3 linked regions of the Homo sapiens genome follow. The protein of the gene in region 1 interacts with the protein of each later gene in a pairwise test. Each region holds a gene or a part of one and is shown in the gene's direction. Other genes may lie near its edges.

Region 1 (7,934 bases):
AATAATAAAAGCATATCTGCATATACCAATTAAGGAAGCTGCCCGTGATACGTTAAAAATAGTAGTCATTGTTCTAAGCACTTAACTTGTATTATTTCATTTGCTATCGATTATCTCTTAAATGAAAAAGTATGGCTGGGCAGCACTTTGGGAGGCTGAGGCAGGCAGATGGCTTGAGCCCAGGAGTTCAAGACCAGCCTGGGCAACGTGGTGAAACCTCATCTCTACCAAAAAAAAAAAAAAAAATTTAGCCAGGCATGGTGGTGCATGCCTGTAGTCCCAGCTACTCAGGAGGCTGAGGTGGGAGGATCACTTGAGCCCAGGAGGTGGAGGCTGCAATGAGCTGAGGTTGCACCATTGCACTCCAGCATGGGTGACAGAGCCAGACCCTGTCTCCAATAAAAATAAAAAAGAAAAAGTACAATTTGCAGAATAGTATGTAGACTATCTGCAGATATAGAAAATAGAAGAATATCCCAAATTTAGTAGTGGCCCCCACTGGGGAACATGATAGAGACACACTGGGGAAAGGGCACATCCTTCTTTCACTTAACCTATTACCTTTGAAATGTATACAGCAAATATGTAGAACTTTATATTCATAAAGCTTTTTAAAATAGGCTGGGCATGGTGGCTCACACCTGTAATCCCAGCACTTTGGGAGGCCAAGGTAGGTGAATCACTTGAGGTCAGGAGTCCGAGACCAGCCTGGCCAACATGGCAAAACCCTGTCTCTACTAAAAATAAAAAAATTAGCTGGGTGTGGTGGCGCACACCTGTAATCCCAGCTACTTGGGAGATTGAGGCACGAGAATCACTTGAACCTGGGAGGGAGAGGTTGCAGTGAGCCAAGACTGCGCCACTGCACTCCAACCTGGGCAGCGGAGCAAGACTCTCTCAAAAAACAAAATGAAACCCTTTAAAATAGAAGTTGTCAGCCGGGCGTGGTGGTTTACGCCTGTAATCCCAGCACTTTGAGAGGCCGAGGCAAGGAGATCACTTGAGGTCAGGAGTTTGAGACCAGCCTGGTCAACATGGTGAAACCCCATCTCTACTAAAAATACAAAATTAGCCGAGCATGGTGGCACACGCCTGTAATCCCAGCTACTTGGGAGGCAGAGGCAGGAGAATAGCTTGAACCTGGGAGGCGGAGGTTGCAGTGAGCCAAGATCATGCCATTGCACTCCAGCCTGGGCAACAAGAGCAAAGCTCTGTCTCAAAAAAATAGATAAAAATAAATAGAAGCTGCCACTTACTGTGTTCCTAACTGCCTAACCCTGGCAGATGCTGGGAGCGTAGAGTAAAGGCGCCGTGGTTCAGGGAGAGAGGGGGCTGGTTCTCACCTCTGGTGGCAGCTCAGGAAAGATATTTGATGAAATCAAGATCTGTCTACCGAACACTGATAAAGGCTCTATTAGAATTTACTGGACTTCCCCAGAGTGCCACAGGGAGGCTGCTGCATGAAGAGGCAAAAATGTTAAACGAGGATGCAGCACGGAGTGTTCAAGGGACACAGACCTGAGGCAAAAGACAAAGCTGGAGACGGGCATTTTGCAAATTTGAAGCCAACTGGCTCACAAAATGAAAGAGGCTGTTAATACCAAGTGTGAAGGTGGGATGGCATCACCAGAGCTGGCCAAGTTCAGAGAAGCTGGAAATCTCAATTTGGATGTGACGTTATTAAATGATGACAACACACGTACACTACATGGGCCAACCATGGGCGAAATTCAGACTTTGGGTCTCTGGGTTACAGGTAAGGTCGTGACAGGCTTTGATGACTGGGGGTGCTGCAGAAATTCTGAAGTAGGTGACAACAGGTAGCTCCTCCCCACAGAATTAAAGCAATAATAACTCATATCTACCCCATGATACAGATTTCAAAGTACTTAATGTCATCACAGTGCTAAGGCCTAGGAATCCCCTTCTGGAGACAAAGAAACAGATTCAGAGAGCTGTAGAAGTTGGGCTGAGTCACATAGCAGTTGAGTATGGAACTGATTTTATCTGATTTTTTTTTTTTTTGAGACAGAGTTTTGCTCTTGTTGCCCAGGTTGGAGTGCAGTGGCGCAATCTCGGCTCACTGCAACCTCTGCTTCCGGGTTCAAGCAATTCTCCTGTCTCAGCCTTCCGAGTTGCTGGGATTATAGGCGCCCGCCACCACGACCGGCTAATTTTTTGGATTTTTAGTACAGACAGGGCTTCTCTATGTTGGCCAGGCTGATCTCGAACTCCTGACCTCAGATGATCCACCCGCCTTGGCCTCCCAAAGTGCTGGGATTACAGGCATGAGCCACCGCGCCCGGCCTTTTTTTTTTTGAGGTGGAGTTTCACTTTTGTTGCCCAGGCTGGAGTGCAATGACGCGATCTCAGCTCACCGCTACCTCTACCTCATGAGTTCAAGCAATTCTCCTGCCTCAGCCTCCCGAGTACCTGGGATTACAGGCATGTGCCACCACACCCGGCTAATTTTGTATTTTTAGTAGAGATGGGGTTGCTCCATGTTGGTCAGGCTGGTCTCGAACTCCTGACCTCAGGTGATCCGCCCGCATAGGTCTCCTGAAGTGCTGGGATTACAGGCCTGAGCCACCACGCCCGGCTGATTTTATCTGATTCTAAAGTCCTGGGAGTCCCCTGACCTGATGATGATGATGAAAATGAACATTTACTATGTGTCAGATATTTTTCTAAGATTAAAGCTCTTGCTCTGAGGTTCAGAATTCAGGGGATCCATAAACTTGGATGGGAAAAAATTATATTTTTATTTTTGCTAAACTCTAACCAAAATTTATGATTTCCTTCTATATGGATTGAAGCAGTAGCAGTATCTTTGGCTTAGTCACCAATAGAAATCACATATTTTCATATCAAATTGTAGTTATTGCAAGTATCTCAAAATATTTATGCTCAAGTGATTTCAAAATCACAGTGGTTGTTAAACCACCACTAAATTGTTCGTGAGCAACTTCTGTTTCAGATGCTCCTGTGATGTAGCCGCCATTAATTGGTTACCTCCAGGCTTAGCAGTGGTTCAGTGACCAAAGGGCGAATCTGCCTGTTCTGAGTAGGGCTTCTCCACTCTTCTGCATTCCCTGTCTTTTTTTTTTTTTTTTTGAGACGAAGTCTTGCTCTGTCGCCCAGGCTAGAGTGCAGTGGCGCGAACTCGGCTCACTGCAAGCTCTGCCTCCTGGGTTCACGCCATTCTCCTGCCTCAGCCTCCTGAGTAGCTGGGACTACAGGCGCCCGCCACCATGCCTGGCTAATTTTTTGTATTTTTAGTAGAGACGGGGTTTCACCATGTTAGCCAGGATGGTCTCGATCTCCTGACCTCATAATCCGCCCGTCTCGATTATAGGCGTGAGCCACCATGCCCGGCCCAGCATTCCCTGTTTTTAGTTGTTTGCTGATCAATATGTAAGAGGAGGGGCGTCAAAGACCACCCCACAGTTTAATGTCCTTATTCAAGCTGGTCGACAACACACTGAGGTCATTAAAAAAGAAAAATTTAACTTTCGGCCAGTCTTATTAATGTTAGTAAACACATAATATAAATTTCTGGTTTTATTTTTTTGAGATGGGCTCCTGCTATGTTGCCCAGGGTGGCTTTGACTCCTGGGCTTGAGTGATACTCCCCCGCTCAACCTCTCAACCTCTCGAGTAGCTGGGACTACAGTCGTGTGCCAGCACTCCCCAGCTCCAAATTTTTTTTTTGTTTTTTGTGGGTTTTTTTTTTGAGACGGAGTCTTGCTTTGTTGCCAGGCTGGAGTGCAGAGGCGTGATCTCAGCTCACTGCAACCTCCGCCTCCCAGGTTCAAGCGATTCTCCTGCCTCAGCCTCCTGAGTAGCTGTGACTACAGGCGTGCACCACCACACCCAGCTAATTTTTGTATTTTTAGTAGAGACGGGGTTTCACCATGTTGGGCAGGCTGGTTTCCATCTCTTAACCTCATGATCCACCCGCCTTGGCCTTCCAAAGTGCTGGAATTACAGGCGTGAACCACCATGCCCGGCCAAATTTGTTTTTAAATATAGTTTTGATAATTGTTCTCATTGTAATCCTAAGCATTTTGTTTTGTGCATTTATTTATTTATTTATAATACAGAGTTTTGCTCTGTTGCCCAGGCTGGAGTGCAGTGGCACGATCTTGGCTCACTGGAACCTCCCCCTCCTGGGTTCAAGGGATTCTCCTGCCTCAGCCTCCTGAGTAGCTGGGATTACAAGCACCCACTACGCCCAGCTAATTTTTTGTATTTTTAGTAGAGATGGTGTTTCACCATATTGGCCAGGCTGGTCTTGAACTCCTGATCTCAAGTGATCCGCCCACCTCGGCCTCCCAAAGTGCTGGGATTACAGGCGTGAGCCACCGCGCCCGGCCTGTTTTATGCCTTTATAAGCAGCTATTCTGAGAAAGCATTCACAGGCCTCACCAGATGCCAGAGTCCATACTGCAAAATCCAAGGGAGGCTAAACACCCCAGTTCTAAATGTTTTCAAGCCATTCAGATACTGTGCACAGCTGCCCTTTGAAGTACGGTCTATTATATCTCTTTTACAGACCCAGAAACTGAGGCGCAGAAGTTAGGGTCAGCCCCAGGTCACACAGCTAACAAGAGCTGGCCTAGGCACCCAGGGACCTGGCCCCCTAGCCTCTGTGCTTTGCTACTGATTTCAGCGCTCCTCTTGTGGCTTTTTCTTGAGGAGCCCAAGGGTCAGGGTCCCACCCCGCGATATGAGGCCAGTGGCACTGCCCCCTAGCAGGCGCGAGATGCCAGAGCCCTAGGATGTCTGAAGGGCCGGGCAGGAGGCGGACGGGCGTGGGCCAATGGCTGTCGCAGTGCCTCATCTTGCCGTCTGTGTGAGCCCAGGTATGCAGTAGGCTCCGCCCAGGACCCAGCCCGGCCCCTCCTTAGGCCTGGGCTCTGGGAGCGGAAATTCCGGCGACAGCAGGGCAAAACAGGAGCTGATTCGAGCTGGCAGAGCTGGGCCATGGAACCGGTAGAGACCTGGACCCCCGGAAAGGTGGCAACTTGGCTGAGAGGTGGGTGGGGCTGGGGTAGAGTTGGGCTTGAAGGGGACTAGGTGTGGTGTCCCACCGGGAAGCGGGAGGAGAGGAAAAGGAAAAAAAATCTGCGGACTGGGTGCGCTGGTTCACACCTGTAATCCCAGCACTTTGGGAAGCCAAGGTGGGTGGGTCACCTGAGGTCGGGAGTTCAAGACCAGCATGGTGAAACCCCGTCTCTACTAAAAATACAAAAATTATCTGGGGGTGGTGGCAGGTGCCTGTAATCCCAGCTACTTGGGAGGCTGAGGCAGGAGAATCGCTTGAACCCAGGAGGCAGAGGTTACAGTGAGCCGAGATTGCACCGCTGCACTCCAGTCTGGACGACAGAGCGAGATTCAGCTCAAAAGAAAAAAAAAAATAATAAACTGCGGGCTCTATCAGTCGGTCAGTCAGTCAACAAATATTTACAGAGCACCTAACATGTTCCAGGAACCGTGCTGGGCAGAGAGACAGATGAGATGACCCTGGGGGGCCCAAGGACCCAGAAGGGGGCCCCTCATCATGGCAGTAGCCCAAGAGGCCTCTAGGGTGATAATGGGGAGGCGGTGTCATGAAAACAGGAGGGAGGCCTGACAGGCCCACACCCACTGTATCTCCTTCATCTTCCCTGGCCCCAGGGCCAGTGGGCTGTTGTTAAATCCGTTTCTTAGAGTCAGAAACTGACACACAGAGCCAGGAAATGATTTGCTCAGTCTCTGGTGTCATTTTCCCCGCTCCACACCCTGAGCTCCTAGTGACAGAAGCAGAAGCCCTAGGCCAGACTGAAGAGGTTGACACAGCCCCACCCTGGGGCTCCTATCCAAGGGGCAAGGTGCTGTCCAGGCTCAGCGAGCCCACACAGATGGGAAGCAACACACCCCACAGGCAGACTCAGAGAAGGAAGGGCCTCCTGACACACAGTGCGACCAGGAGCAGGCAGTCAGGACACCCCTCCCAGAGTGGGGAGCTGGAGCGCACTAGAGACAGGCTCAGGAGGACCAGCCCGGGTAAGGGCAGGAATTCAGGGCTGGGTTCAGACTCCCAGGCTGGATTCCAGGCCCACCCCCACCGCTTGCCAGCTCTGTGACCATAGGTCTTAGTTTTTCTGTCCATCAAATGGGAAAGGCAACTCTGACCTTATGAAGTCGACAAAGTGAGACAATCATGACATAGTTCATTTGTAGCTCAATGCCTGGGTCTATTGGGAGGGCACCAGCCCAATACAGTCACCGTGCAGGAAGGAGGTGGCTCAGGGGCCCATAGCCAGGGAGTGATAGGTTCATGAACTCCCAGTCCAGTGCTCTCAATGTGACACAGGGAACACACACACACACCTCCCCCAGTGAAGGAGCCTGGCTTAGAAGGGGAAGAATTCCTTCGAAGAGTGAGCAAGCTACTTAACCTCTGTGTCAGTTTTCCCATCTGTAAGCAGGATAATGATAGTCTTTACCTCCTAGAAATGCAGTGAGAATCAAATGTGTTAATATGTGTAAAGCTCTTATAGATTTGCATAGCACATAGTAAGCCCTCAATAGACACTTTTCTTATTTTTCAGTGCCTACCTTGTCCAGGCACAGGCCGGGGGTTAGAGACAAATGGTTATCTAAGGCCTGATCTTTGAAGAGCCTGTGATAAAATGGGAAAGACCGATGGTCAAGTGCAGGGGTTTGTGGAGGCTCAGGGGCAGTGGGAACAAGAGGAGAGCCCTCCATCCCACTCAGCCTGGGAAGTTATGGAAGGCTTCCTGGAGGAAGTTAGATGAAAAAGGAAGTGAAGGAGATAGAAGAGCAACGCCAGCAGGAGGAATAGCACTTGCAAGGACGCTGAGGTAAAAGGGTGTTCCAGGAGCTGCAAGGAATTAGCTCTGTGCATCTGAAATGTTGAGTTTAGGGGGCTCTTCAGGATATGATGCTGGAAAGGGAGGTAGTAGCCTAATCATACAGGGCCTGTAGGTCATGGTAAAGTCTGGCAATAATAATATGATGGCTATTATTGGCTGTCTCCCACGAACCAGACAGTGGCCAAGGCCTTGACATATGTTGTGTCATTCAATACACACATGATTAGAAGGTAGGTACTTTTATTATTCTCACATTACAGGTGAGAAAACTGGGCACAGAGCAGTGCTATTACTTGCTCAAGTGTTCACAGTGTCTCAGTGACTCCATAGCCTCTTGTTCTTATCCCCTGTATCATTAGTTCTCAAACTTAAGGGAGCATCACAGTCACCTGCATTAAAATACAAACTGCTGGCTGGGCGTCGTGGCTCACACCTGTAATTCTAGCACTTTCAGAGACTGAGGCAGTCAAATTGCTTGAGCCCAGGAGTTCGAGACTAGCCTGGGCAACATGGTGAAATCCCACCTCTGCAAAAAATACAAAAATTAGCTGGGTGTGGTGGTGTGTGCCTGTAGTCCCAGCTACTTGGGAGGCTGAGGTGGGAGGATGGATTGAGCCTAGGAGGTCAAGGCTGCAGTGAGCCGTGACTGTGTCTCAAGCCCCTGTCTCAAAAAGAAAAAACAAAACAAAAACAAAAAAAAGACTGCTGGGCCCCAACCTCAGAGTTTCTGATTCAGCAGGTGTGGGGTGAGGCCTGATAATTTGCATTTCTAACAAGTTCTCCGGTGAGTCTGCTGCTGCTGGTCTGGGGGCCACTTTTAAGAACCCATGTCCTATACTTTCCTGCTTCTCAACTCAGTGGCCTCATCTGTGAAATGGGCAGAACAGCCTGGGTGTCAGAGTTGTCATTAGGGTTAGACTAGAGGGAAAAGAGCTTTGCAGGCATGAAGAACCATCCCAAAAGGTCCTGACACCTCTGCTTCCCCGAGCTGAGCCTTACTCTCCCTCCAGGTCTTGACGACTCCCTGCAGGACTATCCCTTTGAGGACTGGCA
Region 2 (7,555 bases), on another chromosome or scaffold:
CACCTCACAACAATCTTCACAGAAGACTGCTCTGCCCAGAGGCGTGGGGGTTTATCCCCACACACCAAGCAGCAGACACTACCTGGGGGTCCTCTCATCCAGTCCAACTTGGACTCTTATCTGGAGTGAGGTCAGATCTCACAGGCTGAGGGCTCAGTCCCCAAGACTGCATTTGTGACAGCAGTCACAAGCCTGGGCCTCTGGAAGTTCTGAGCGACCACCTTAAACTTGGGATTTCTATGACCCCCGCTCTTTGGGTTTGATTAATTTGTTGGAGCCACTCACAGAACTTAGGGAAACACTTACATTTAGTATTTTGTTTGTTTTTAATTTTTTTGAGACGAAGTCTCGCTCTTGTCCCCCAGTGTGATGGCGCGATCTCAGCTCACTGCAACCTCCACCTCCCGGGTTCAAGCGATTCTCCTGCCTCAGCCCCCCGAGTAGCTGGGATTACAGGCACCCGCCACCAAGCCCGGCTAATTTTGGTATTTTTAGTAGAGACGGGGTTTCACTATGTTGGCCAGGCTGGTCTCGAACTCCTGACCTCAGGTGATACAACAGCCTCCCAAAGTGCTGGGATTATAGGCATGAGCCACCACGCCTGGCCATTTAGTGGTTTATTATAAAGGATATTGCAAAGGATAAAGATGAAGAGATGGGGAAGGGCCCTTGCACAGAGCTTCCAAGCCCTCCCTAGGCATCACCCTCCAGGAACCTCCACATGTTCAGCTATCCTAGCCCAGTCTTTTTTTTTTTTTTTTTTTAATGGAAATTTTTATGGAAGCTTCCTTCCATAGGGCACAGGGCAGGACCCTCTCTGGGGAGGGTCTTAAGACCCACAATCAGAAAGGTGGGCAAGATTAAAGTCCTGCCTTGGGGCAGGTGAAAGAACAAGAGAAGGCCAGAGAGATTGTTTCCTGAGGCCTAAACCAACATTATAACAAAAGACTGTAACAAGAGCTAAGGGAGGTATGTGCCAGGAACAGTGGAAAATACCAGAGGGTGGCCAGGAGCAGGCTCATGCCTGTAATCCTAGCACTTTGGGAGACTAAGGTGGGTGGATCACTTGAGCCCAGGATTTCACAACCAGCCTGGACAACATGGAAAGACCCTGTCTCTAAAATAAATAAATAAATAAAATATTAGCTGGGTGTGGTGGCGTGCAACTGTAGTCCCAGCTACTTGGGAGGCTGAAGTGGGAAGATCGATGGAGTCTGGGAGGTGGAGTCTGCAGTGAGCCATGAGCCACTGCACTCCAGCCTGGCCAACAGAGTGAGACCCTGTCTCAAAAACAAAACCAAACCAAAAACTGTCAAATACCGCAGGGAGCTACCAACTTAAAAAAATTAGTTGTCAAGTGGATCAACCACTAAGGACTTAGAAACCACAGCGAAACTTGCAGAGAGCCCACACCCAGTTTAAAGGTTCTGTGAAGAATTAGTGGATGTGGGGGAAGAGGTCTGGGTTAGAATCCACAGCTGGAGTGGAGTCCTGTGGTTCCTGTCTCCCTGCCGCCGGCTCCTTCTCATTACGCTCCAAGGGCTGGGGGCACAAATACAAGATACGAGAGTGAAACTGACTTAACTCCTGCTTGCAAGTAGGCTGCATTTGGATGTCTATTAGCCTCGGCTTCCAAATGTCATGCAAAGATAACAGCTAAAGGACCTCTCTGGCTGGGCGCAGTGGCTCACGCCTGTAATCCCAGTGCTTTGAGAGGCAGAGGTGGGCGGATCACCTGAGGTCAGGATGTCAAGACCAGCCTGGCCAACATGGCGAAACCCTGTCTCTACTAAAAACACAAAAATTAGCTGGGCTTGGTGGCACATGGTGGTAATCCCAGCTACGTGGAGGCTGCAGTGAGCCGAGATGTGCAACTGCACTCCAGCCTGGATGACACAGTAAGACCCTATCTCAAAAAAAAAAAAAAAAATCTCTGATCATGAATGTGATCTAATGGAGTAGCTTCTGTGTTTCTTTGACAGTCATCCATGGTCAGGGATAGCCCTACCCAGTGGACACATGCATGCATTCATTTGCAACCAGAACAAACACTGTCTCTGTATTATGTGTGATAGACTACAATTTTTTAAAAATTCTATTTTCTTTTCATCTAATAAGTATTTGTTTCATAACCATTAAGAGTCATGACCCGCTGTTTGAAAAACACTGTTCTTTTTTTTTTTTTTGGAAACAGGGTCTCACTCTGTCCCCCAGGCTGGAGCACAGTGGTGCAATCATAGCTTACTGAAGCCTCAACTTCCCAGGCCCAGAGGATCCCTCCCACTTCAGCTTCCAGAGTGGCTAGGACTACAGGCGTGTGCCGCTATGCTCGACAATTTTTAATTTTTTGTAGAGACAGGGTCTCTCTATGTTACTCGCGCTGGTCTTGAACTCCTGCCCTGAAGCAGTTTTCCTAGCTTGGCCTCCCAAAGTACTGGGGTTATAGGCATGAACCACTTCACCCAGCTGAAAAACACCAGTCTAATGGAACAATATAAGGGAACAGAATTTGTAAACAGTCATGTTCTCTGCTAATCTGTGATTAGCAGTAATACCAGTATCCCTCCCTCTCCAAATCTATTCAGTTGGTGAGTTCAGCTAAGAGGTCTAGAGTGCTGATAGTAAGAATTAACATGCCATCTGAATCGCTTTTCTTCTGGAGTTCTGGTCTTTGAGCAAGAGCTGAGGTGGTCTGGGACTTGCATACTGATAAGGGAAGAAAGCCAGCTCGAAGATACCTTGAACCTTCTGGTGAGTCTGGGGTTAGAAGTGAAGTAGGGAGTGAAACAGAGGATGGCAAATACTGGGGGAGAGGCTCAGTGCTCCATTAGCCCATGTGACAGATGGTTTGAGAAGATTTGCCAGGTCAATGTGGGGTCAATTCTAAAAGTGTCCTAAGTCTAGGCCAAGAGGAACAAAATGCAGCTGGGTCTCTGACCTCACACGCCGAAGCCCAAGGACACGTTAGGGCCAAAATGTGACTCTCTAAGGTCACCTGTAAAACTGGACAATCTGGTAAAGTCAGTGAAGGTTAAGATCATGAATCCAGCCAGGCGTGGTGGCTCACGCCTGTAATTCCAGTACTTTGGGAGGCCAAGGAAGGAGACCAAAGAGAAAGGATCACTTGAGCCTAGGAGTTCGAGACCAGCCTGGGCAACCTAGCAACCTCCGTCTCTACAAAAAATACAAAAATTAACCAGGTATGGTGGCCGGTGCCTGCAGTCTCAGCTACTCAGGAGGCTGAGGTGGGAGAACTGCTTGAGCCTGGGAAGCAGAGGTTGCAGGGAGTCATGATGGTGCCACCGTACTCTAGCCTGAGCAACACAGCGAGTGAGACTCTGTCTCAAAATGAATAAATAAATAAAAGAAAAAGAAAAATAGTAAAACTCAGGACAGGTGGGCCCACAAGGAAAGAGTTCTGTGGCTTTTACTCCCGTTTTTTGGTTGGTCCAAAAAATTCCCAGCAGTCCAGGGATCTCTGTGGAGTTCTCAGTGAGTGTTCTGTGTAGGGTGCAGGAGCCACAAGTGACTGCAGGGGGAAAGGGGGGTTCTGGTGCTGGCATTCTGCAGCAGTGGGATTGTCCTCTGTCATAAAGAAAGAGAAGGCCGAGCGCGGTGGCTCATACCTGTAATCCCAGCACTTTGGGAGGCCGAGGCAGGCGGATTATTTGAGGTCAGGAGTTCGAGACCAGCCTGGCCAACATGGCGAAACCCCGTCTCTACTAAAAATACAATTAGTCGGGCCTGGTGGCACATGCCTGTAATCACAGCTACTCAGGAGGCTGAGGCAGGACAATCGCTTGAACCCGGGAGGCGGAGGTTTCAGTGAGCCGAGATCGGGCCACTGCACTCCAGCCTGGGCAACAAGAGCGAAACTCGTCTCCAATAAATAAATAAAATCCAAAACGCTGGGACTTGAAGTGCCCTCCTTTCAATCTTGACCCAGGTAAAACTCAGGACAAATAAAAAGAAGTAGAAGCAGTAAACTTAGGACATACAGCATGTAAAGGTTCTGAACGCAGGAGTAAATGACTTCAAATAGCTTTTGTGGCCTTTCGCCAAGGACCGGGCCCTCCCTGGCAAGCTGGGGCCGGGTCTGACCTTCCAGGTTGGCGTCAGCAAGGACCACCCTGCCCTTCAGTGGCCGGACACGACCTTGGGCTTTCGTGCAGTAGCCTGGCTGCAGGCCAGGTCGAGTCCGCCACCCCGGGGACTTGCACCGCCCTTCAGAAACCGAAACCTGCTCGGCCCCAGGAGGCGGACCGGGAGAAGGGGGGGGGGTGTGTGTGTCTCGGGACGGGGGCGTGGTCTAGAGGCGGGGGCAGGGGAGGAGCCTCGGGTGGACGCGCGTGCGCAGGCCGGAGCCTCGGGAGGAGGCCGGGTACCCGGGGTGCGGCGCGCGCGGGAGGAAGGCGGGGCCTCGGGCGAGGGGCGGGGCCTCGGGCCGGGGGCAGGGGGCGGGCGCAGGCGCAGGCGCGGGCGGGCGGGGCGCGGGGCGCGGGGCGCCGGGGGCGGGGCTCCGAGCCGGGCTGAGGCGAGCGGGGGCGCGGGTGGCGCGGCGGGACGCGAGCGGCGAGCCGGAGCGCGGAGCCCGGCTCCCGCACCATGGAGGAGGACGACAGCTACGGTCAGTGCGCCCCGGCGGCGGACGCTTCCCCCTCGCTGTCCCCCAGTCCCCTCCGGGCCCGGCCGTCCGGCAGCGCTTGCGGCGGCTGGCGTTTCCCGGGGACACTGGTGCGGGACGCGGAGCCCGGGGCGACCGGCGGGCGAGCGGTGCGCGGGGCCCTCGCGGGGCGGGGGTCGCAGGGGGTTTTGAGGGATGAGGGTCGCCGGGGCCGGGGTCGCTGGCGGCGCTGAGGGATGTGGGTGGCTGGGGCGGGGGTCACAGGCCGGGCTCGCGGTCTCGCGGGGCCAGGGGTCGCCGCGAGCTCTGAGGAATGAGGGTCGTTGGGGTCGCGGGGCAGGATCTCAGGGGCTCTGAGGGATGAGAGTCGTTGGGGTCGCTGGGGTCCCCGGGGCAGGGGTCGCAGTCCGGGTCCCGGGGGGCCGAGGGGTGGAGGTCGCTGGCCCTGCCGCCCCTCTGCGGGGCTCGGGGCGGACGCGCGGATGGCCGGGCCCGCGTTCCCCGCAGTTTCCGGCCGCTCTCGGCGTCAGCGAGTTGTGCCCGGTCCACGTCTTTGTTCAGAAATGAGAACGGGGAGCGGCGCCGCCGGCGAGGCGCGGGCTCCGGGACGGCCCTGCCCGCGGGAGTCTGGGCCCGGTAGCCGCCGGTCCGGTGCGTCGCCGCCTGCCGAGACGCGGGTGTGGAGCCCGAGGGGCACCGCGGTGGGGACGCCGCTCCTCCCCTGACTGGGGACTTGGCAAGCGGAGCCGCTGTCCCGCTCCCTTCGCTCCCGCGCGTTGAGGCTGCTGGCCCAGGCCAGGGGTGCCTCCCTCCAAGAGTTTGAAATTGCAAGGGTTGCAAAAGGTTGTTTGACATGCTGTAGTTAATTTATTAAGTTTGTTCATGAGGAATTAAAAGGAAGAATGGCAAATAGAACAAGTGGTGAACTTTTGTGGTTTGGTAGCAAAGTACAAATAAAGCAGAACTCTGTGGCCAAATGGAACCCAATTCTAGTTTAATAACTAATGGGACATTTTTCTTTTTTTTTTTTTTTTAAGAGACGAGATCTCGCTCTGTCACCCAGGCTGGAGCACAGTGGCGTGATCGTAGCTCACGTCAGCCTCTTGAGTGGCTGGAACCATACGCACGCCACCATGCCCGGCTAATTTTTTATTTTATTTTATTTTATTATTTTATTTTATTTTATTTTATTTTTGAAACGGAGTCTCACTCTGTCGCCCAGGCTGTAGTGCAGTGGCGCCATCTCGGCTCACTGCAACCTCGGCCTCCTGGGTGAGCTGAGCGATTCTCCTGCCTCAGGCTCCTGAGTAGCTGGGACTACAGGCGCGTGCCACCACGCCTGTCTAATTGTTGTATTTTTAGTAGAGACAGGGTTTTGCCATGTTGGCCAGGCTGGTCTTGAACTTCTGACCTCAGGTGATCCACCCGCCTCGGCCTCCCAAAGTGCTGGGATTACAGGCATGAGCCACCGCGCCCAGCCCTAATTTTTTACTTTTTTAAAAGATGGGGTCTTGCCATGTTACCCAGGCTGGTCTTGAACTCCTAGACCCAAGCAGTCCTCCCACCTCTGCCTCGCACAGTGTTGGGATTACAGGCCTGAGCCACCACACCCAGCCCACTTGTTACCTTATAAGTAAACAAGTAAAAGCAGCTTGTGCATTTTTTTGTTGTTTGTTTTGTTGTGTTTTTGAGACAGGGTCTAGCTCTCTTGCGCAGGCTGGAGTGCAGGGGCGCTCTCATAGCTCACTGCACGCTCTGCTTCCTTGGCTCAAGCAATCCTCTCACCTCTCTTCTCAGCCCCTCCTGTAACCTGGACTACAGGCCTGGGCTACCACGCCCTGCTAATTATTTTTATTTCTTTTTGTAGAGAGGGAGGTCTCCCTATGTTGCCTAGGCTGGTGTGAACTCCAGTTCCTATCTTGGCCTCCCAAAGTGTTGGGATTACAGGCATGAGCCACTGCTCCCAGCCTCCTTTTGTGATTAAAAGAAAAATCACCCACTGGCTGGCCCCAAAAGATTGTTCAGCCCCTCCAGATTTCACTCCTGCCCACTGCTGAGAAGCCGACAGCAGTTTTGCCTGCTGCTCTTTTCTCTGCCTCCTCTTGCCATTTAATTTCCCTCAGATCCCAGTGTCCTGCCTACCAGGCTTTTGTGGCCTCTCTTGTGTTCTTGCCTGCTGCCGTGGGCAGGAAGCTATTGGTCTGGTTGCTTTTAATACAGTGACTGCTTTGCCACCAGGCATGACATGAACTTGTACTTGAAAGAGGTAAGTGGAAGCAGGGCGTGTTAGTTTCCTATACCTGTTATATTACCACAAGCCTGGTGGCTCAAAACAACATAACATTTGTTTTAGGGTTCTGCTGTCAGAAGTCCAAAATAGGTCTCACTGGGCTAAAGCCAAGGTGTCGGACAGGCTGGTTCTTTCTGGAGGCTCAGGGGAGAACCCATTTCCTTACCTTTTCCAGCTTCTAGAGGCCACCTGTGTTCCATGGTTCATAGTCCCCTTTCCATCTTCAAAGCCAGCAGGTAGCATCTTCTCATTTCTCTCGACCTCCTACCTCCCTCTTATTAAGATCCTTGTGATTATAGTGGGACCCACCTGGATAATCAAGGCTAAGGATTAGCAACCTTAATTCCATCTGTTACCTTAATTCCCCTTCTGCCATGTAAGGTAACCTATTCACAAGTTCTGGGGATTAGTACCCGGACTTCTTTAGGGGCTGTTATTCTGTCTGCCACACACGAAGATGAGAAAGTTTGTAAGTTTATTCTTCCCCTTTCTTTTTTTTTTTTTTTTTTTTTTTGAGATGGAGTTTCACTCTTGTTGCCCAGGCTGGAGTGCAATGGCGCAATCTCGGCTCACTGCAACCTCTGCCTCCCAGCTTCAAGCGATTCTCCTGCCTCAGCCTCCTGAGTAGCTGGGATTACAGG
Region 3 (7,019 bases), on another chromosome or scaffold:
AGAGGTCAGGAGATCGAGACCAACCTGGCCAACATGGTGAAACCCCCGTCTCTACTAAAAATACAAAAAAAAATTAGCCGGGCCTGGTGGTGGGCGCCTGTAATCCCAGCTACTTGGGAGGCTGAGGCAGGAGAATCACTTGAACCTGGGAGGTGGAGGTTGCAGTGAGCCGAGATCAGGCCACTGCACTCCAGCCTGGGTAACAGACAGAGACATCGTCTCAAACAAACAAACAAACAAACAAAAAAACATATCCCATGAGCCTACACCGGTGCCTGAAACTCTGAAATGGGGAGGAATCTCCTCTTTTTAACAAATAGAGGAAGGGTCAGTAGGCTCCGTGTGCACCATGTAAGACACAGCAAGCCCGGGGCCATCATCACCCTCATGTGGGTTCAGATGCTTTGACCAGTTGCCACCTATTCGGGACAGGACCCCCGTCAGAAGGGGACAGGGGACTGAGGATTCACGAACACACTTGTCAACCAGAAGGGAGTATGAAAGGAGCTGTATGCAGTAAAAATACAAGCAACCTGCTCACTATTCCCATGCAATCCCACTCCCCTGGGAACCGTGCCTCAGTTTCCCCAGCTCTGCAAAGTTGGCTTTGCAGGGGTTGGGTGGGGGCAACTGCAGGCATCATTCTGCATCTTGCCTTTATTCTGAAACGTGTAACCCCGTCAGAAACCCAGATTTAGCGTCCGACGGGTGTTTGATGGTTCGTATGGAGAGATCAGCCTTCGGAAGATCAACATCAGGGCTGTAAGCCTCCGAGCCCCAGATGGACCCAGATGTGAATCCCAGCTCTGCCACCCTCCAGCTGTGTCACCTTTGGCAGGACACTTCACGTCTCTGAGTCTCAGGGGCCTCACCTGTAGGATGAGCTTAGAAGTACCTTTCCTTTCGGAGTGGTTGTGGGATTCAATGAGAGTGGATGGGAAGAGCCTGGATCACACAGGGCCTGGCGCACCATGGGTGCTCAGCCACCATGCCTTCCTTAACCAACGGCGTGGCTTGGTTATTGAGCCATGCAGATCCCAGAAACGCTGTGGGGAATGGGAAGGGGTGGGGGCAGGGATGGCTCCTAGATGGAACCCAGGAGGACCCCTGAAAAGGGATCTGAAGTAGGAGATAAGGAGGGGCTGCTGGCAGAGAGGAGAAGGAAGGGCGTTCTGGGTACAAGGAATGGTGGTGCAAAGGCTTTTGGAAGGCTAGAGCTCAGGGGAGTGAATGAAGGGCAGCCAGGGAGGCAGAGCACGGAGCTGGGACGGGGAGGGGCACAGTGTGAGAGGAGCATGGAGGGGATACACCAGCAGGACTGGTGAGATTTGGGGTCTTTGTCCCCAGGACAATGGGATGCCATGGGAAACTGGACCAGAATGGGTAGAAGAGGCAGGGAGGCATCCGAAAGCCCTGAAGTCCCCCTGAGCAAAGCGATAGCGGCTGGGATGACAGTGGAGCCATGGAAGGGGAAAGAAATAGACAGGACTTGGTGATGGAGGAGACCCAAGGGGTGACAGCCAGGTGGGAGTCAGAGTGCCTCCTGGGGAAATGTGGACCATTTCCAGAGCTCAGGAATTCAGGAAGAGGATGGGGAGGAGGGGGCATTCTAGAAGTTCAATTTTGGGCACAATGACAAGAGCGGTGGTGACCAATACATAGGGGATGGTTGGATCTGAAGCTCAGAGAAGGGGCTGGAACAGAGGATGTGTGAATGATTCCCTGGACCCTGAAGGCAGGTGGGAGCCAGGAGCTGATGAAGCCCCATGGGGACCAGGAAGGTCGGCCTAGGAGGAGCTTCAGGAGCCCCATCACTCAATTCTGGCCATCCACACCTTGGAGCATCTGTAGGAATGCTGGAGCCCACCCTGGCTTCTCTCAGACAAGCAGCCAGTCTGGAATCCACTCAGCCTCCTCCAGCAGGTGCGCCCTGGGCAGAAACACAACCCCAAGCCAACAGGAAAACTGTATAAAGCCAACAAACAAAACAAAACAGAATCGGATTGTTCACCTCCAAGGCAACCCAAGGTGATTGGTTTTTTCCCATGGATGAGACCAACGGCCTCCCCGCCAGCTCCTGCCGGAAGAGTTCCGGAGCCAGCTTCCAGCACTGCCTCCCCGGCTGTCCCTGCTCTGCATCTCCACACAGGTGGCCCCTTACACCTTCCATCCCTGCATGTCCCAAGCAGTTTGGGAATCCACCTCTCCTGGGGCAGAGGCGTGGGGGTCAGCAAACAAGGGTGCAGTTCCCAGCACTGCCACTTCCTGTGAATGAGACCTGGGGCGAGTCACTTCGCCTTCCTAAGCCTCAGTGTCTCAAACTGGAAAATACCTACTTCAAAGAGGGTTAAATGACAGCAGTTATACAGAGACTGGCATGGAGTAGGTGTTTGTGCGCTTAACGGGTCATAAGACTCTTGCTTTGTCCCCTGGTATAAGTGTCCCCGCCAACTCCCTCCTGGAAACAGTACCTCTAGACCTGCAGAGACAGAAAGAAACTCCAGAGTGGGCCGGGCACAGTGGCTCACACCTGTAATCCCAGGACTTTGGGAGGCCAAGGCAGGTGGATCACCTGAGGTCAGGAGTTCGAGACCAGCCTGGCCAACATAGTGAAACCCCCGTCTCTATTAAAAATACAGAAATTGGCCCAGTGCGGTGGCTCACGCCTGTAATCTCAGCACTTTGGGAGGCCAAAGTGGGCAGATTGTGAGGTCAAGAGATCAAGACCATCCTGGCCAACATGGTGAAACCCATCTCTACTAAAAATACAGAGATTGGCTGGGCATGGTGGCTCATGTCTGTGGTCCCAGCTGCTCAGGAGGCTGAGACAGGAGAGTCCCTTGAGCCCGGGAGGCAGAGGTTGCAGTGAGCAAAGGTCGTGCCACTGCACTCCAGCCTGGTGACAGAGTGAGACTCTGTCTCAAAAAAATAAATACATAAATAAAAAATTAGCCGGGCATGGTGGTGCATGCCTGTGATCCCAGCTACTGGGGAGGCTGAGGCAGGAGAATCGCTTGAACCTGGGAGGCAGAGGTTGCAGTGAGCCAAGATCATGTCACTGCACTCCAACCTGGGTGACAGAGCAAGACTGTCTCAAAAAAAAAAAAAGGAAACTCCAGAGTGGGTCACTAGGAGAATGGCAGGTGGGGCCACTCCCACTCCTACCCCTCAGCTCGTAGACCCTTGTGGTCCACCTGCTGGAGACAGAGCACCACACAGTGGTGGTAGATTTAGGGCATATGGTGCCTCCTGGAGGATGGCGCCCCATCCAAGTGGATATCACCTCCAGGCTGACACCTCAGCTGTACCTTCTCAAGACCGCCCCATGGCTCCATTCCATCCGGCCAGCACCTTCCGATGAAATGCTAGAGAGGATCGGTGGATCTCATGGCCACGTGCTCACTTCAGACCACCTTTGCTGTAGAGAGCATCCCTTGGTCTTCTGTGATGTTATGTGGTGTGCTGTGTTGGTGGGTCAAACACCCTAAGCCTCTGGATAGTGGTGCTGGCTGAGGCTCTGTGGGCAGGAAAGGCAAACACATTTCCAACACGTGTCGACTCCAGACAAGATGGATTGTTGACTTTTGCAGAATAGAAGGGGTTTCATGGAATCAGTTTGCCCCCTGGTCTTCTGGAGAAAAGATGGGCTCAGCATGCGTCCCTGTTGCTGGCAGAGTGGACATTCCGCTCCCACGGGGTCATCCACCTGCCTCTTCTCCTGACATCTGTGTTTCTGATCTTCCCATCTTCCTTCTTTCTTGCCTCTGACCAAGAAGTCAAGCCATTCACCACTGCCCATGATGCATGGATATTCTGACTTCAAGAAGTCACTTCTCTTTCCACAGGAAGTGGATGGCCAGGTGCCCTGCCTGAAGCCCTGCCCCCTGGGAGGACTTGCCCTCATCACTGTCTTTCCAGGACACCTTTGAGCAGGACTGTAGTTCAGTAGCTGCCTGGTTTTCACTTGCGCCCAAACTCTGAGCCAACTCATTCTGCAACCAGCCTTGGGCATTTTCCTCTGTTGTTAGAAAGTCATAAGGGACCCACCCATGTGGTCACGGTGTAAGCAGAGGGATAGACCCTGGTCCACCAGCAGCGGTGACATGAGGATCTGGGCCACCTATCCCTGGAGCCTACTGGAGCCCTCTGGCTCTGCTCACACCTGCTCCTGGACGTACCACTCACAAAGGGTTACTATTGGGCTCGCTTGACCTTCTGACTTAGTGGGACAGATGGAGCCATCTGAGCTACTTAGTTACATGATGTTCCGTGGGCTGGCACTCTATCTCTACCAGGACCCGGTGCCATTCCAGGAACTGTTTTCTGCATAGTATATAATTCTCTGCTAGAAGGAAGCAGCTGGAAGGAGCAGGCCATCCTCCCGACCGGGGAAGTGCTTGGGTATGTGATGAGGGCCATTGCTCCTGCATCCGTTAGGTCTCAAGAGTGGCACCCACACCTGCCATTCCCCTCAGGATATAGTTTTTTATTTAGTCTCTTCGCTGTGGGGATGATGGGTCAGCTTCATAAATTTCCAAATAGCTATTCCCACTACAATGATCCTGACCCCATGGGCCAAGGTACCAATATGGGCTCAAGTACCAGCGATGTCCATTCCAATTCTACATCTGTAGGCCAGGAAAGTGGCCATGAATCAAGCAGACCCCTAGTGAGCTGGACCTGGAAGGACTTCATTTACCACCTGGTCTCTATGTACCCCCACTCAAATGTGGCCCTGAAGACACTTCAGTCTTGAGCGCTGATGTCAACTTGGATCCTGTGTCCAACAATCCTCAGAATGTTTGGATATTGCTCTTTCCCCAGTGTACAGTTGTTGGAGTGAATGGCCACAGGTGTTTTAATGTGGAACCAGGGAGTCATTGCCATATATACTTGCCACAATGTTGCAGGACTCTTCCCTTGGAACCCAGCCTCTCCTTCAGTCCCGACGTTCTGTATCTGAAAACTGGGGTAGGTCCTGAAACCAGGCAAGGGGTCTTGGGTTTTTTTGTTTGTTTTGTTTTGTTTTGTTTTGGAGACAGAGTCTCACTCTGTTGCCCAGGCTGGAGTGCAGTGGCATGATCTGGGCTCCCTGCAAGCTCCGCCTCCCAGGTTCACGCCATTCTCCTGCCTCAGCCTCCTCCGGTGTACCTGGGACTACAGGTGCCCACCACCATGCCTGGCTAATTTTTTGTATTTTTAGTAGAGATGGGGTTTCACTGTGTTATCCAGGATGGTCTCGATCTCCTGACCTCGTGACCCGCCCGCCTCGGCCTCCCAAAGTGCTGGGATTAGAGGCGTGAGCCACCTTGCCTGACCGGGACTTGGCTTTTTATTGCAGTGGCTGCCCTTGGTCAGGGGAACTCCTGGGCGTGGCACCTCCCTTTGGCTGAGGCTAGTGTCTGGGGAGGGATTCAGCTGTGAGCCATCAGCAGGCTTTCCTCCCAGCAGCTGGGGGGATGGTGCCTTGGTCCTGAAGAGAAGAGCCAGATGCACACAGCACCCATTGCACACATGTGGGACTCAGCATATGTTGGATTCTTGCTGGGTGTTTGACAAAGTGTAGCTCTTTCCTTCCTGACAGCTGCCCTGTGAGGCAAGGGTTATGGTTCACATTTCACAGATGAGGATGCTGTATTAGGTATATCTCAGATTTAGCTGCTTAAAGAGACTCAGAATAACAGCAACCGAAACATTCTCAAAACTGATTTATTTCTTATTGAAAAGTCCAAATGGATAGGTGGGCCAGGTGAACATGATGAGTCTTCTCCACACCGCTGCCTGGGGACCTGGGCTCCATCTAGCCTGGTGCCCTGCATCTCCGCATGGGGCTTTAATCTCAACAGCCACAATGCCTGCTTAATCATGAGAAGGAGAAGTAGGGAAAGGGAGCGCTCAACATTCCCTCTGTGTTCTTTTGGAGGAAATGATGTCTATCCTTGTAAAACCTTTAAGAAATGCGGCCAGGCACTTCCCGACGCTGGAACTTGAAGGTCAGCGAGGATTTGGGCAGGCAGACAGGAGAAGGCATCCCAGAGTACAGGAGCGGCCTGGGCAAACATGGGGAAGTGGGACTGAGTCCTGGATGGCTCTGGAGCAGGAAGGAGCTGGCAGGCTGGACTGGCAGGCTCTTTTTGGGAATGGCAGGGAATAAGTCTGGCTGCCAAGGCTGGAGAGGTTGTGGAGGCCCCAGGCCCAGGATGAAGACTTTCTCTCTGAGTAATAGGGAGGCCATATTACTCAGAGAAGGAGAGTGTTGTGGATGAAACAGAAGCCACCATGAAGCATGAAGATAGGACAGCTGACCTAGTTGTGGGCATCATCACAGCACCTTGCATAGAATGCCGCACACACAAATCTTATTTCATTTAATTCATTTCCAAGTGGAGATGAAAGAGCACAGGCTTTGGAGTCAGCCCAATTCAAGGTCCCATCCTGGCTCAGTGACCTTTTCCCTGTGGGTTGAGTCACCTCACCTCTCTGAGCCCCAGTATCCAGGGGCAGGGACTATAAAATATCCCCCAAATCCAGCCTCCCCATTTTACACAGTAAGGACATCAGGACCACCCTGCTACAGGCTCATTTCCCAGCCTCCCTTGCAGCTAGGTGTGGCCACGTGACTACATTCTGGCCAATGGGATGTGAGGAAAATGGTATACCACTTCTTGGTTGTTCAAATAAATAAGTGAATAAATAATGAGCCCATGAGCCAGTGGAGGAGGAGATTCAAGTTCCGGGGAAGGAATGCGTGCCTTCAGCGAGTGTTTAACTGAGTGCTTATGACATGTCAGACTCTTTCTAGGTGCTGGGGACACAGTAGTGAGCAAAAGAGTAGAACAACTGAACTCTCATGGAGCCGAGAGTCTAGCGGGAGGGACAGAAAAGATGCAAGGAAACAGGATCCTTTTGGGGGTGTCTATCCAGGGGGGTGGGAGAAACAGGAAGCAGGGCAGGAGAGGAGGGAGCAGGGGCTGCTTTAGACAGGGCAGTCAGGGGAGGCTTCCTGGAGGAGGTGGGCC

Evidence for each region. The genes of interacting proteins can lie anywhere in the genome.
Region 2: the proteins of CNKSR1 (region 1) and CYTH1 interact in binary tests that used the Homo sapiens proteins (3 or more experiments, as listed by UniProt).
Region 3: the proteins of CNKSR1 (region 1) and CYTH4 interact in binary tests that used the Homo sapiens proteins (3 or more experiments, as listed by UniProt).

Annotation. Positions count from the first base shown.
Region 1 is NC_000001.11:26,172,562-26,180,495, forward strand, and holds the start of CNKSR1 (connector enhancer of kinase suppressor of ras 1), read left to right. Parts: upstream 1-4,929; 5' UTR 4,930-4,986; coding exon 4,987-5,038; intron 5,039-7,891; coding exon 7,892-7,934. UniProt on the Homo sapiens protein: May function as an adapter protein or regulator of Ras signaling pathways.
Region 2 is NC_000017.11:78,779,274-78,786,828, reverse strand, and holds the start of CYTH1 (cytohesin-1), read left to right. Parts: upstream 1-4,555; 5' UTR 4,556-4,605; coding exon 4,606-4,627; exon of another isoform or gene 4,628-4,773; intron 4,774-7,555. UniProt on the Homo sapiens protein: Promotes guanine-nucleotide exchange on ARF1, ARF5 and ARF6. Promotes the activation of ARF factors through replacement of GDP with GTP.
Region 3 is NC_000022.11:37,285,489-37,292,507, forward strand, and holds part of CYTH4 (cytohesin-4), read left to right. Parts: intron 1-7,019. UniProt on the Homo sapiens protein: Promotes guanine-nucleotide exchange on ARF1 and ARF5. Promotes the activation of ARF factors through replacement of GDP with GTP.